Homo sapiens: one gene and its partner. Changing the gene in region 1 together with any one later gene gives a genetic interaction. Each region holds a gene or a part of one and is shown on either strand. Other genes may lie near its edges.

Region 1 (7,213 bases):
CTCCAGTGTCCCCATGCACAGAATTTCACTGGAATACTATTAACATAAAAGCAAAATATGGTCAAAGTACTTTAAAAATTCAAAAATTGTAAAGATTTTGGGCCATATTATGGTATTTGTGTATAAATGCCTATAGCACTAATCTTGCTCTAAAGGCAAACAGACGGGAGGGAAGGCCTGGGACACCATGGGGCCTGGCAGCTTTCCTCAGTTTCTCTGCCAGTGCCCACACAGCTCAGCAGGTATGCTGGTGAGCATTTAGCTGCTGTGCAAATGGTTACTTAGTTCCCTGAATCTTTTAAAACCTTACATTTTTTTCTGGATTATACAGAATTTTCCACTAGTGATATCCCGTTTCCAAAGTCACTCAAATTAAAGAAGTAGCAAGGAAATAGTGAAACTGCACCCACCAAATAACAGTGAGATACTACTTTTGATCTGCTACATTAGCAGTTCTTCCTTCTGTTTAAAAATCAAGAGAAGTTGAGGCAGAGAAGACAGTATTCTCACGTGCTGCAGGTAGGTGTAAGTTAGGGAAAGCTTTCCAGTTAAGAGTACTGATATTACAAAAAGGAAAAACTGGAAAACTGAATGGTTCTATCACTGACATCCTCCATCACATCATAGGCATGGAAGTTGGGAGCATCACTTGGAAAGCCATTTGTAAATAGATGTATGCAGCACACTCTTCTCAGCTCCTGGCATCCCCCCTCTCCCTGTGGTTTCACTAGGAATGCACCGGCTTTCCTGGCTCCTAAATACCATCCCCAGTAATGCCAACTGGCCCTGCTGCCTGGAGACCCCAAGGGATCCCACGCGCCTCCTCCAACTCACACATCAGGAGAGAATGGGTTAAGGTGCCATCAACCTGACCACGGTGGGGGGCATCCCCCAAACTACAGTGTGATGAGGACCCCCCTCATGGCCTAGACCACAGTGAGAGTCAAGAGCGGCTTTCTGGCCCTGCAGGGCCCTCACCTGGGCTGCAGGGATGGCAAGGCGGCTCCCGTAATAGGGACAGGCCCGGGCCTCCTTCCCAAGGGCCAGCAGCTGCTCCATGTCCTTCACCTCTGCCAGGGCCTCATCCCGGAGAAGGCCCATCTGCTCGTGGTTGTAGAAGGGGCAGGCTGCCTGCTTCTCCTGCCTCCTCCTCTTTGGCTTCTCCTCCTCAGCTCCTTTCTTCTTCTCTGAGGGTGGCACAGGCACAAAGAGAGAAAACAGAGAGGACAGCAACTGTCCACGGGCCCAAGAGGGGGTTGTGTAATGTTGAGACCCACTTCCATGGGGTAGGGTCTATAAGACCCTCCCAAGTACTGCCTACTGTGGTCTCATCGGAACACTGTAAGGTTTTACTTCTGTTCTCCAGAAAGAGCCCGTAAAATCATCTCCAAGCCAAGGATTCGGACCAGACACTGACCCAGAGAGTAGGAACACTTTTTCCCAAGGAGAGGGGACTCAGGAAGGAACTGGGGTCTCCTCTGCCATTCTTTCTATGAAAGACACTTAATGGTCTTCAGTCACTGCCACCCCTGCCTCACTCTCTCCAGACCACCTGCGGCTACACCATGGTCCCAGTGGCTACCGTGCCTGCTTCTCTGCATGTCCACACAGCGGTCGTTGATAAGCTGCACAGAACCTAGGCTTTTCACGTCTTCATTTACACAAAGGTTCTGCAGCAAAGGAGAAAGAAAGAGGCAAAAAGATGGTGCCAGCTAAATGACATCCTACCAACACACGTGGACCTGCCCCGCCACCTCTCCTTTGCCTTCCAGTGCTGGGCCGGCCAGGTCAGGGAGGGGGCTGCTCCTCACACGGTTCAGCCTGTCACAGACCCAGCGTCTCCCAAGGCCTGGACGAGCAGGACAAAGTTGTGGCGAAAGGAGCAGGATGGCCCCTGGTGGAAATACTGGCTACTGTTTACCTGCCGGGAGCCAAGGGAGACCAGCCGAACATCCTTGCCAAAGGGGCTCTTCTTCACCTCATGCACAAACTGGGCCAGCTGGGAGTGTGTCCGACTACAGTAATAAATCTAGCAGAGAGAAAGAAAGGCGCTTCAAAGAGAGAACCAAAACATCCCACAGCATTCTCTAACATCAAGGCACGCCAGGGCCTGAGAGGCTGAGGGAAAGGGAGTGGCTCCCAATGCACAAAGCCGAGGCAGGACAGCAATGTCCCATGTCAGGCATCTATCGAGGGACCCAGGGATTCCCAAGTCACCCACAGCTCCAGAAGTTCAAGGGAATGCCCCAAAGGCAGCTCCTTCCACGAGTCATATCCAGCCTCTAATCAACCGCTTTTGGGGGGTTGGCCAATCTTTGGACATGGGTGACCATCTCCCGTGGCAAAGGGTCCCCACTTGGGGAGGGTGGGTTGTTGGTGGGAGGGGAGGGAGTGTGTCACACACATCCCCAAAGGGAAAAAGGAAGGCTGACCAGAATACCCTCTCTCTACTCCTCTAAGGCAAGAGTGAAGGGAGAAAAAAAGAAAATACAAAGAAAATACCTACTTCCGACAGAAAACAAGTCATAAATCAATGAAACCAAATGGGAAATGTCAGACCATACACAACCCATAGCCCTCCATGCAAATGGGAACACAGACAAAGGGAGAAGCACACCATGAGAGACCCAAAGGGCAGGGGACTCATGTCTGTCCTACCCGTACCACCCAGCAGGGACAGAAAACACCCAGATTTCAGCCCAGAACAGCTGTTCCTCGATGCCCTGGGGTGGCAAGCATGGCCCTGCCCCCAGGAGAGGTCTCCCCAGGCCCCGAACCCAGGAGATGTCTCCCCAGGCCCCAAACTCAAGAGAGGTCTCCTCAGGTCCCTGTTCCCAGGAAAGGTCTCCCCAGGAGAGGACTCCCCAGGCCCTGACCCCAGGAGAGGACTCCAGGGTCCACTGCAGCTGGCCAAGGGAGCAACTTAGGACCAGGGTTGTGTGCAAGAAGCAACGGAGTCCAAGTGCTGGAAGCTCCTCCTTTGTGGAGAGGAGGGTGAGAAGTAGCCAAGTGACTCCAGCCTCCTCCCCAGGGGTGCACAGCCCAGCCTATACCCCCAGCACAGCACCAGCTGAGGACACTTGTGTTACCTTAGTTATGTGTTCTTCCTCCAGGTCATCCTCATCCTCATCCACTCTGTGTGTGTGAGAGAGAACAGAAAACAGTCTTCCCTCAGCAAACTCAGCAAAACGCACTGAGCATCTGCTGAGCGCTGGTGCTGAGCCCTGGCCATTCCCAGCAATGGGTTCCACCAAGGTAGCAGGTGCTGCTCGCTCAGAAACTCCCCCAGGCAAATGCCAACCCCAACCTCCCATGGCCGCTCAGGTCTGTGGGTAGGGAAATGTAAAAAGGAGAAAGGGGCTCAGCACCCCCAACCCAAGTCTTGAGTCGGAAGCCTCGGGACTCATGGCAGGCTGCTCTCCTCTCTGCCCTCCCTCCAGCAAGCTGGACCCCTCTGAGGCCCCAGGGCGGATATTTGCTCTTCATCATCTCAGGCCTTCGGATGTTCTGTGCCTGGAATGTTGTCTCCCCTCACCAGCTCCCAGTCAACTCTGAGATAGCAGCAGAAACATCACCTCCTCCAGGAAGCCTTCTTTGACCTTCCCTGGTAGGCCTGGCTGCTCTGACACAGATTCATGGCCCCTGCTCTTCACACCCATCTCATTCAAAATCGCTTCCTCTCGGTCTATCTCCCCAGACTGTCATGTCCACAAGGGAGGACCCAGGTCGGCCTTGTTTCTGCTGAGTCCCCGTGGCCTCACCTAGAGCTTGGTATGCAGCAGGAACCCCATGACCATCTCCTGGATGAAGCTACAACTGACCAATCGAGTGAACAGAGGATGCTGTCACTTATGACCAGCTACAACTCTTCTTGTGTCAGTGCCTCAGTCTGCCCTTCCCAGCAATGCGGGAAGAATCCATCAGCGCCAGGCGTTGGCAGGGAAGCCAGCCCTGCATCCCATGGCCTGAAGCTGAGCTAGCTCTACTAGTCTATGCTCCTCAGAAAACACAAAACCATCTGACAGGCACACGCTACCTATGGCAACATCACATAAAAAGAAAACATTTTTGTTCACCTCGAAATTCCTTTCTAACAAAACAGAATACAATTGTCTTGGGCTATCAGAAGAGTAATTATTACAGGCTTGGCTTCATGGTCACTAAAGAGCAGGCGGCTCTATCTTAAAAGGCTTGGATTCAATCTTATGTCGCATGCTGGACAAAGCCAGCAGGAGCTCACTGAGAGGCTGGGTGTGTGAAGAAATGAAGAGCAAAAATTTTCTATTCAGAACTCAGGTCCTCCGAGGCTCACGTTATCTCCTGAAACGTGAGGGCATGGGAAGCCCCAGAAGCTGACCTACAGGATCCATGGCTCTTGCCCAGACCTGAAGGAGCACTTTGTTCCTTTAATATTCACCACCTCCATCTCCACTCAAGTTCTCTGCCTTGTCCCCACGGGCTCTAAGGGAGAAGAGAGGGAGCAGAAACATGACCTCGGAGGCGGGCAGGAAGGGTTCATGGAGCACAAACTGTTTATGACCCCCTCTCACCAGCGAGGCATAAAGCAACACGGTGGTCTCTGCCCTGGGCAGGGGCAGAAGTCGAAGTTCACATGCGCAGCCTGGAATTACACTACCAGACTGCAACGAGGCAGCATCTGCTCATTCATGTCAACTCGATTTTATTGAGCACACCCCTATGCCAAACACTGGGTCAGCTCTGGGAACATCAAACTATAAAGACGTGGTTCCTGCCCTGAAGCAGCTCGAGCCCAGCCAGGGAGAGGAGGCAACAACAGAAGCACAAGCAGGTGCATGAGCAAAACAGAGCAGCTGACACCCGAAGCCACCAAGACGACACCTGAGCCAGGCCTTAAAGGAGAGGAAGACATCTGCCAAGGGAGGAGGGCAGGGTGTTTGGCCACAGCACGTTGCATGAGCAAATCCTCAGACAGGACAGAGGAAGGCCTGGTGCGCTGGAGGAAGTTCAGGGCAGCGGGGAAGCTGGCGTCTGGTGGATGGCGGCTGGAGGTGGCATCAGAAGGCGCCCTGCAGACAGACTGTGAAGGCCGGGGATGAACCTTCAGGAATATCCATGGAGGGTCTCTGGTCTTGCAGTTACCCTCCGACAGATGTGGTGGCCAGGATGTCACAGGACACACGGGACTCATCATCAGGTGCAGCCCCCCACCCCATCCACATCACCATTTTGTTTTCCTTGTAGGCAAACATGCTGACTTCACATAGGTGCTATTTGTTTTCATGTCTATTAACTGTCCCCTCCATGTCTTCTTCCCTTCTATGTCCACAGCATCTGGACAGTGCCATACTCAGAGCAGACACTCAGGGATGGTGGTGAGGTTCCAGTGTGAATGGGAACAGGGCTGTGACCAGGGATCCTGTGGGCCCGAAATGGCCTGGGTGGCCTGCTCAGGGCTAAGTCACCCAGCAGCTCATGGCTCATCAAGTGGAAACCTTGAGTCTGGACCAACAGAGGCTTTATGGGAGAAGGAAAGCTCAGGCTAAGGACGCCTTGATGGTTGGCACCTCACAGGTTACCCAGTGCAGTCAGCTGCCTCAGAGCCTGAGATCTAGAGCCAGGCCAGCTGAGTTCTAGCCCAGCTCTCCACTGCCGAGGCTTGTGGCCTCAGCCAAGGAGTCTCTCCTTGTGGGGCTGCAGCCTCCTTGTGTATAAGGCGCAGACACAAATGTTCCTGCCCTGCCTGAGCTGCCGTGAGGACAGCTGAGAGGACACAGGCCAGGCCGGTGACTGTCCTCACTGCCACTGGCACTCATGGACCCTAGGAAGGACCCGGCTTAGAGCAGAGGGCAGAGGCCACCATGCCTCTTGCCAGGTGCTTCATGGCATCTGTGGCATGAGGGAAAGAGCTGTCTTCAAGGGTGTCCCCTGGCCTGGGGCAGGGTAGTGCTACCGCCTCTGTCTCACCTGCTCGCCACCTTTTTCTCCTCATCACTCTCGTATTCGGCGAGGACCAGCTCCTCCTCCCCAGACTCCAGCTGCTCCAGCCGCTCAGCCTCCGGGCCTGTCTCTAGCATCTCCCTGCTGAGGCGGAGGAGATTCTCTCTTTCTTCTTCTTCCTGCCTCTGGACAGGGGTAGTGGAGGTGGTGAGGGAGGAAGAAGTCTCAGCACCAGTACCCACCTCCCCACATGCCAGAGACAAAGCACACCACGCCCCATTCACATAGGCCTGGCTGCCTGGCTGGAGAGAGGTCGACTCCTAGGATCCACGCCTCAACCACTCACAGCCCAGCTTCTGTACGGGAGCACATAGCCAGTGAGGGTCACGGAGGGGAGACCAAGGCCCTGACCACGCACCCATGAGCCTCCAAGCAGAGCAACCCTGCCTGGACATAATCCTGCCCCCCAAGAAATGAGGCTCACCAGGCGCTTGGCTGCATACTTGAGCTGCACCCTGTGCTGCAGCTGCTGCAGGCGTTCTTCTCGCTGCTTCCTCCTGGCCTGCTCCGCCTACAGGAGGCAGACATGAAGGAAAATCACCAAGGAAGCCCAAAACCAGGCCTCTCCTAAGGAGTCTGGGCCACTCAGCCCGGCGCCTCCTCACTGGGGGCATCTCTCCTTCCCCGGCCAGCACTCAAGGGCTGCCGCATCCCCTCCCGGGACCTCATCCCTGCCGGTCCCAGCCTCGCTGCTCACTGCGGAAGGCGGCACACTCCTCCCAAAGCCACACGCTCTCCATCAGATCCATTTGCAGCCATTGAACCATGCTGCCAATGGCAATGATCAGGTCCTTTCCCAGGTGAGTAATAAATGGGCACCAACAGTTCCTTATGTGGAGAAGGCCTGCTGACCTCCAGCTCAAAAAAGACAGCACAGCGGCAGCACCATAGACCCAAGGAGCTGAGGGAAGAGCTGAGAGGCACGGCAACGGCAGGGGAGCATGCACTGCCTGAGTCTCGGAATCGCCCCAGAACAATCGCTGAAGCCCTGTTTCCTCCAGTACTCCCACTTCCGGATACCCCAGGTCTCACCTTTAGTCGGTCCACCAGGTCCCTCTCTTCTTTCTTCTGCACAAACTGAGTAACCCAGGCCGGTTCTCCAGCAGGCCTCGGGGTGCCTGCAGCCCCTTCGCAGGAAGAAGACAGACACAGGGATTCATCTTTCTCATCATGTAAGGGGCCAGTTCCAGTTTCAAGGAGTCGTGCCTCTTCTTCACGCTTCTTCTGTTCAAAG
Region 2 (5,358 bases), on another chromosome or scaffold:
AGGATCCTTTAGGAACTGGTTTACTTCAATAAGGATCATCTCTCTTAATGTCTGATGTTCAATTAGCTTAGAGTAGTGAGACACAATTACTTCAATTCCAGATTTAAATCCCTATCATGACATTAGTAAATTACCAAATCCTTCTAAGCCTGCTATCCTCATCTACAAAATGAGGATAAAATATATAACGAGAGTTTTTGTGAGAATTAAATGACAGCATGCATCACTGTCACGTAAATAGAATTCAAAACTGGCTTTTTACTCACATTTACATTCTTAGTACTCTCTCTGGGCTGGATTTTATTCTTATATTTTCTCTAACCAGTACCCTTTTTGATATATTATTCTCAGAAGTGACCTCAAATCCTTTGTTGATATACATAAACTCCAAGAAGAACCAACCAACCAACCAACCAACCCAATCTAGTTTTGTTCCAGAGTTCACAGTATAAGGAAAAGAGAAACATGTAAGTAAGGGGAACAAAACGAAGAGTGAGAAAACATTTCCGTGAAGAAAGCATTTGAAAGAATTCCACATAGGAAATAGATCCTGAAAAGTTATTTTCATAGTGGTTTAATAGGTGTCACAAAAAGGTATTTTGTGGCAATGTCATTCTTCCTCAAAAATTGAATACCTTCATTTATTTGCCAATTTCATAAAACAGCATTCTGGAGGTCAATTTTTTCAAAGTGATTTAAAAATAAGTAAAACATTTTTAAAAAGAATTAAACTTGAAACAGACCTCATCCACTGTAAATTTTAGGCATTACTATTCCTGAGTGTCAACTATACATATCAAATGATTAAACACCTCCCTCCTGATTTAGTCAAGATATCTGCAGTAAGTAATGTGTAAATGACAACTGTTCCCAAGACTTATGATAAAAGCTTTTAGCATAGATTAGAAAATGAATAAACATCTCAACAAGTAAAATTACTCTTTTCAGCATTAAAAAATAATTTGTGAAAAATGTAGTGAGTGTAATTATGAAGTGTCATATTCATCTCAACTCTAGTTCTAAAATAACCGGACATCATTTTAACCAAGAGAAATGCTGGTTTTCCAAATAACAGGTTACCTTTACCCGAGGTTTAAAGAATAAATATCAGCATCATGACATCACTAGAAAGAAATTGAAGCATACAAGGAATAAACTATAGTTTCTTTTTATATCAAAATGTACTCTTGAAAATGTGTTTGGCACAGTGCTAAATCATATATAGTTAATACTAAATATTGCAGGATACAATAAAACCCTGGAGTTAATTGTTTACACCCTCTTATGGGAATGAAAATAATAGATACCAATTATTCAGAAGTCAGCCTATACAAACTGTATAAACAATATTTTATGTTTTGCTTTGAAAACCAGTGATATAATAAATTTTACATAAAAGACTGTAAAATAATATAAATGGATTTAAACAGATTTTTACAATAAGAAATTCAAATGGAAACAGACAAGTAACAAAGAGAAGTAAAAAAATTTATTGCAGTATTCGCTCCACCAGATTACCTGGGGATCCCTTTTCTTGTATTGTTTTCAGGGTGACCTAATACATCAAAATCTACATTTACAAAAACTCCTTCTGCAGATAGGTCATAGATACTGCATGCTTTTTTTTTTTTCAACAGAATAAATTATATATCCAGGAGATTCTGCCATTTTACAGCCTGGAAAAAACAATGCTTCCCTGGAAACTGGGCTAAGCTAAAGAAAGCCATCCGCTGCTAGGTTAAACTCCAAGAACACTTTATTAAGAACATTAACAGACTAATTTCCAACATTCACTTGTTTATTTTTTTTAAACAGAAAGTTTTTTTTCCAAGATATAAACAATTTTTGTTAAACTATAATACAGTGGGAGTAAAAATGAACTGAGAATCTGTTTCTGCTGCACAACAGCGAAGGGAGCTCCCACAAAAATGTTTGCCCAACATTTCCTTCTTTTGTTCCTGCATCCCAGGTTCCACTTACTCTTCATAAAACTGATTTTTTTTTGCCAGAATGTTGGTATTTCAAGTTTTTCTGCCTTTTAAAAAAATTCCTGTAAATTTGGCTGCATGTACAAATTCATTAGCTGGAAGTCCCATCCTTGGCGGCATACAGGGATCGTAAAGTCTGAACAACTTTATTAGTCAGCTTATTAGCACTCGTTAGAGCAATTTTTTTGTAAATAATGTCTGACTCTTTAATAGTGTCTACCCAAGGCACCAGTTTGCGGCCATCACGGCGCTTAGCCTCAGTCCAGGAGCCACTGTAGGAGCCTGCCATCCACTGAACACTGAAGCCACTGCTGGTTTTCTGCACTACTCTTGCAATTTGTGGTCGATCTTTGTACTTTGGACAGCAAATAGCGATGACATCCATGACGTCAACACTTTCATTCATCTGTGCTGCCAACTCCGTAGAGTCTGAATTTCGTTTTGACCTTCTCAATGACTAAAACATTGGGAGGGGGGAAAAAAGACCAAGTGTTACACAAAAGAATTTTAGTGAAATTATTGTTTTTATTGCTTTTAATCCCTTGACGCCGGGAGTTGGGATTTCCCGGCACACTTCCATTGCCGGCAATGAGACGCACCGTGACCGCCAGCGCCAAGGGGTTAACATATACTTGTAAAACCATATAACTCTTAATTTGTACCCGTGTCTTTACTCTTATTGATATATAAAATTATATATACATATGAACCATATAGCTACATAAAACTTAGCAACAATAAAAATAACACACATTAATACAATTCAAAGAAAAATTAACCCTTTATGCTGGATAAATCTCATTTCTGTTTTTTTATTGTCTTTTATGTTAAACTTTCTACAAAAGGATGTATAAACGGGTAAGTAGAGAATCTCTATCTACAAAATGTTTTCTCTTTTAAGTATTACATTACTTGGTGTACATTTAATAGACTGACATATATAAGCACATAAAAATCATTTTACGTAATACGCTGCGAAATACGTTGACTCCTCCTCCGCCTCACCCCTGAAGTGCCTCCTCCTCTATCCTCCCCATCACTTTCATCATCTTCTGTCTCTGCTGCTGTATTATTTTTAGGGCTGCCTCCTCCAAGCAGTGAGGTAATTGCTTTGTTCCGAGCATTTGTGCTAGCTGAAACCTCCCCTTCTTCTTCTTCTTCATCAGGGTCCAGATGTTCCATGAGAAGTTTGAACTACAAAAAACAGATATTATTTCAGAATTTTAAGTAAATATTTCAAGCAAGATTGTCAAATTCCTAAATGTTTTCTATGGCAGTAGTTTGGTGTGGGTGAAACAGACGTTAGCCATCATCTAAATTAGGGGCTAGTAAACATTTTCTGTAAACAGCCAGGTGGTAAATATTTTTCATTTTGAAGGTCAAATAGTCTGTCACAACTACCCAACTCTGCCACTGTAGTATGAAAGCAGCTACAGACAAATAAATGAGTGGGCATGAATGTTTTCAATAAAACTTTGTTTGCAAAAACAGGCAATGGGTTAGATACAAAAACAGCCAGAGTTTTCAGACCCTTGGTCCAAGTCATCAAGCAATCAGGTGATAATTACTGATAGACATTTTCTAGTTATCTCCCCTCTTTGCTCTCTGCTAAGACGATACAAGAGAAAGCAAAGAATGTTGAAAAATTTTAAATAAGAACTAAAATATTTTTAAATTTTAGAGTAAGGTTTGCAGTCAATGAATAATATGAAAAGCCACTGTGTAGATTATATTCTTAGTTCAAAAAACCTTATTTTATGTTCAGCTACTTGCTTTAAAGTAGATTTTTAAAAATTTTTTTAAGAAAAATAGAAATGGGGTTTTGCAATGTTGGCCAAACTGGTGTCAAACCTCTGGCCTCGAGTGATCTGCCCACCTCAGCCTCCCAAAGTGCTTGTGAGCCACTACACCTGAAATTAAGTAGATTAAAATATAAAACTTTATTTTTATTTTTTAGGATAGTCCTCTAATTTCAAAAACATTTTTAAAAACTTTTATATTGTGATAAAATAGAAATATCATAAAATTTGCCAGCTTAACCCTTTTTTTTTTTCTTTTTAAATTGAGACAGGGTCTCACTCTGTCACTCAGGCTGAAGTGCAGTGGCACGATCATGGCTCACTGTAGCCTCCACCTCCCAGGCTTAGGTGGTCCTCCCACCTCAGCCTCCCCAGCAGTTGGGACTACAGGTGCACACCGCCATGTCTGGCTAATGTTTGTATTTTTTGTAGAGACAGGGTCTCACCCTGTTGCTCAGGCTGGCCTGGACTTCCTGGACTCAAGCAAACCTCCTACATAGGCCTCCCAAGGTGCTAAGATTACAGGTATAAGCCAGCATGTCCAGCCTACCAGTTTAACCATTTTAAATGTATAATTCATTGGCATATTGTACAACTATCACCACTGTCCATTTCCAGAGCTGTTTCTTTTTTTTTTTAATCACTGGAAACCACAGCTGTCCTCATTAAACAATAACTCCCCGTTCTTTCCTTCCCCGGTCCTTGGTAACCTCTAGTCTATTATCTGTCTCTATTTTTAAAGCACATTTTATATACATACATTTGCATACTTGATAAGTGAGAAAATCTACATATATATATATTGGCATTACTCATATAAGAACATACGAAAAAGTAATAATATTGGTTATCAGAAAAGAAAGGAACAGAATAGCCAAACACGGTAAGAGAATGACTGCTTGCAGTTTTACCTTTTATGACATATAAGCCATGTATTTTTCTGAATTAAAAACATAGCCCTCTGTATCCCCGGATTCCGCACCTGCGGATTCAACCCACAGTGGATCAAAAACTATTTGGAAAATGCCACAATAAAAAATAACAGCACTGGCCAGGTATGGTGGCTCATGCCTGTAATCCCAGCACTTTGGGAGGCCGGCGGATCACCTGAGGTCAGGAGTTTGAGACCAGCCTGGCCAACATGGTGAAACCCCATCTCTACTAAAAATACAAAAATTAGCCGGGCGTGGTGGCTGGCGCCTGTAATCCCAGCTATGCGGGAGGCTGAGGCAGGAGACTTGCTTGAACCTGGGAGGCAGAAGTTGCGGTGAGCCGAGATCGCGCCATTGCACTCCAGCCTGGGCAACAAGAGTGAAACTCCGTCTCAAAACAAAACAAACAGCATTACAATAAAAAATACAACTTAAAAAAAATGCAGTATAACAACTATGTATATAGCATTTACATTGTATTAGGTATTATAAGTAATCTAGAAATGACTTAAAGCATATGGGAGGATGTATGTAGGTTATATGCAAATACTATGCTTTTTAAATAATTTTTTTGAGACAGGGTTTCACTCCTGTCACCCAGTATGGGGTGTAATGGTGCAATCTCAGGTCACTGTAACC

What was found.
Region 2: changes in DDX11 (region 1) and NIPBL are lethal when combined (synthetic lethality), as found in Homo sapiens cells (one study listed by BioGRID).

Annotation. Positions count from the first base shown.
Region 1 is NC_000012.12:31,083,860-31,091,072, reverse strand, and holds part of DDX11 (ATP-dependent DNA helicase DDX11), read right to left. Parts: coding exon 7,012-7,213; intron 6,491-7,011; coding exon 6,404-6,490; intron 6,105-6,403; coding exon 5,947-6,104; intron 5,941-5,946; exon of another isoform or gene 4,861-5,940; intron 4,848-4,860; exon of another isoform or gene 3,762-4,847; intron 3,136-3,761; coding exon 3,090-3,135; intron 2,030-3,089; coding exon 1,922-2,029; intron 1,671-1,921; coding exon 1,583-1,670; intron 1,188-1,582; coding exon 979-1,187; intron 1-978. UniProt on the Homo sapiens protein: DNA-dependent ATPase and ATP-dependent DNA helicase that participates in various functions in genomic stability, including DNA replication, DNA repair and heterochromatin organization as well as in ribosomal RNA synthesis.
Region 2 is NC_000005.10:37,061,614-37,066,971, reverse strand, and holds the end of NIPBL (nipped-B-like protein), read right to left. Parts: intron 3,183-5,358; coding exon 2,994-3,182; coding exon of another isoform or gene 2,949-2,993; exon of another isoform or gene 2,446-2,948; coding exon 2,080-2,445; 3' UTR 559-2,079; downstream 1-558. UniProt on the Homo sapiens protein: Plays an important role in the loading of the cohesin complex on to DNA. Forms a heterodimeric complex (also known as cohesin loading complex) with MAU2/SCC4 which mediates the loading of the cohesin complex onto chromatin.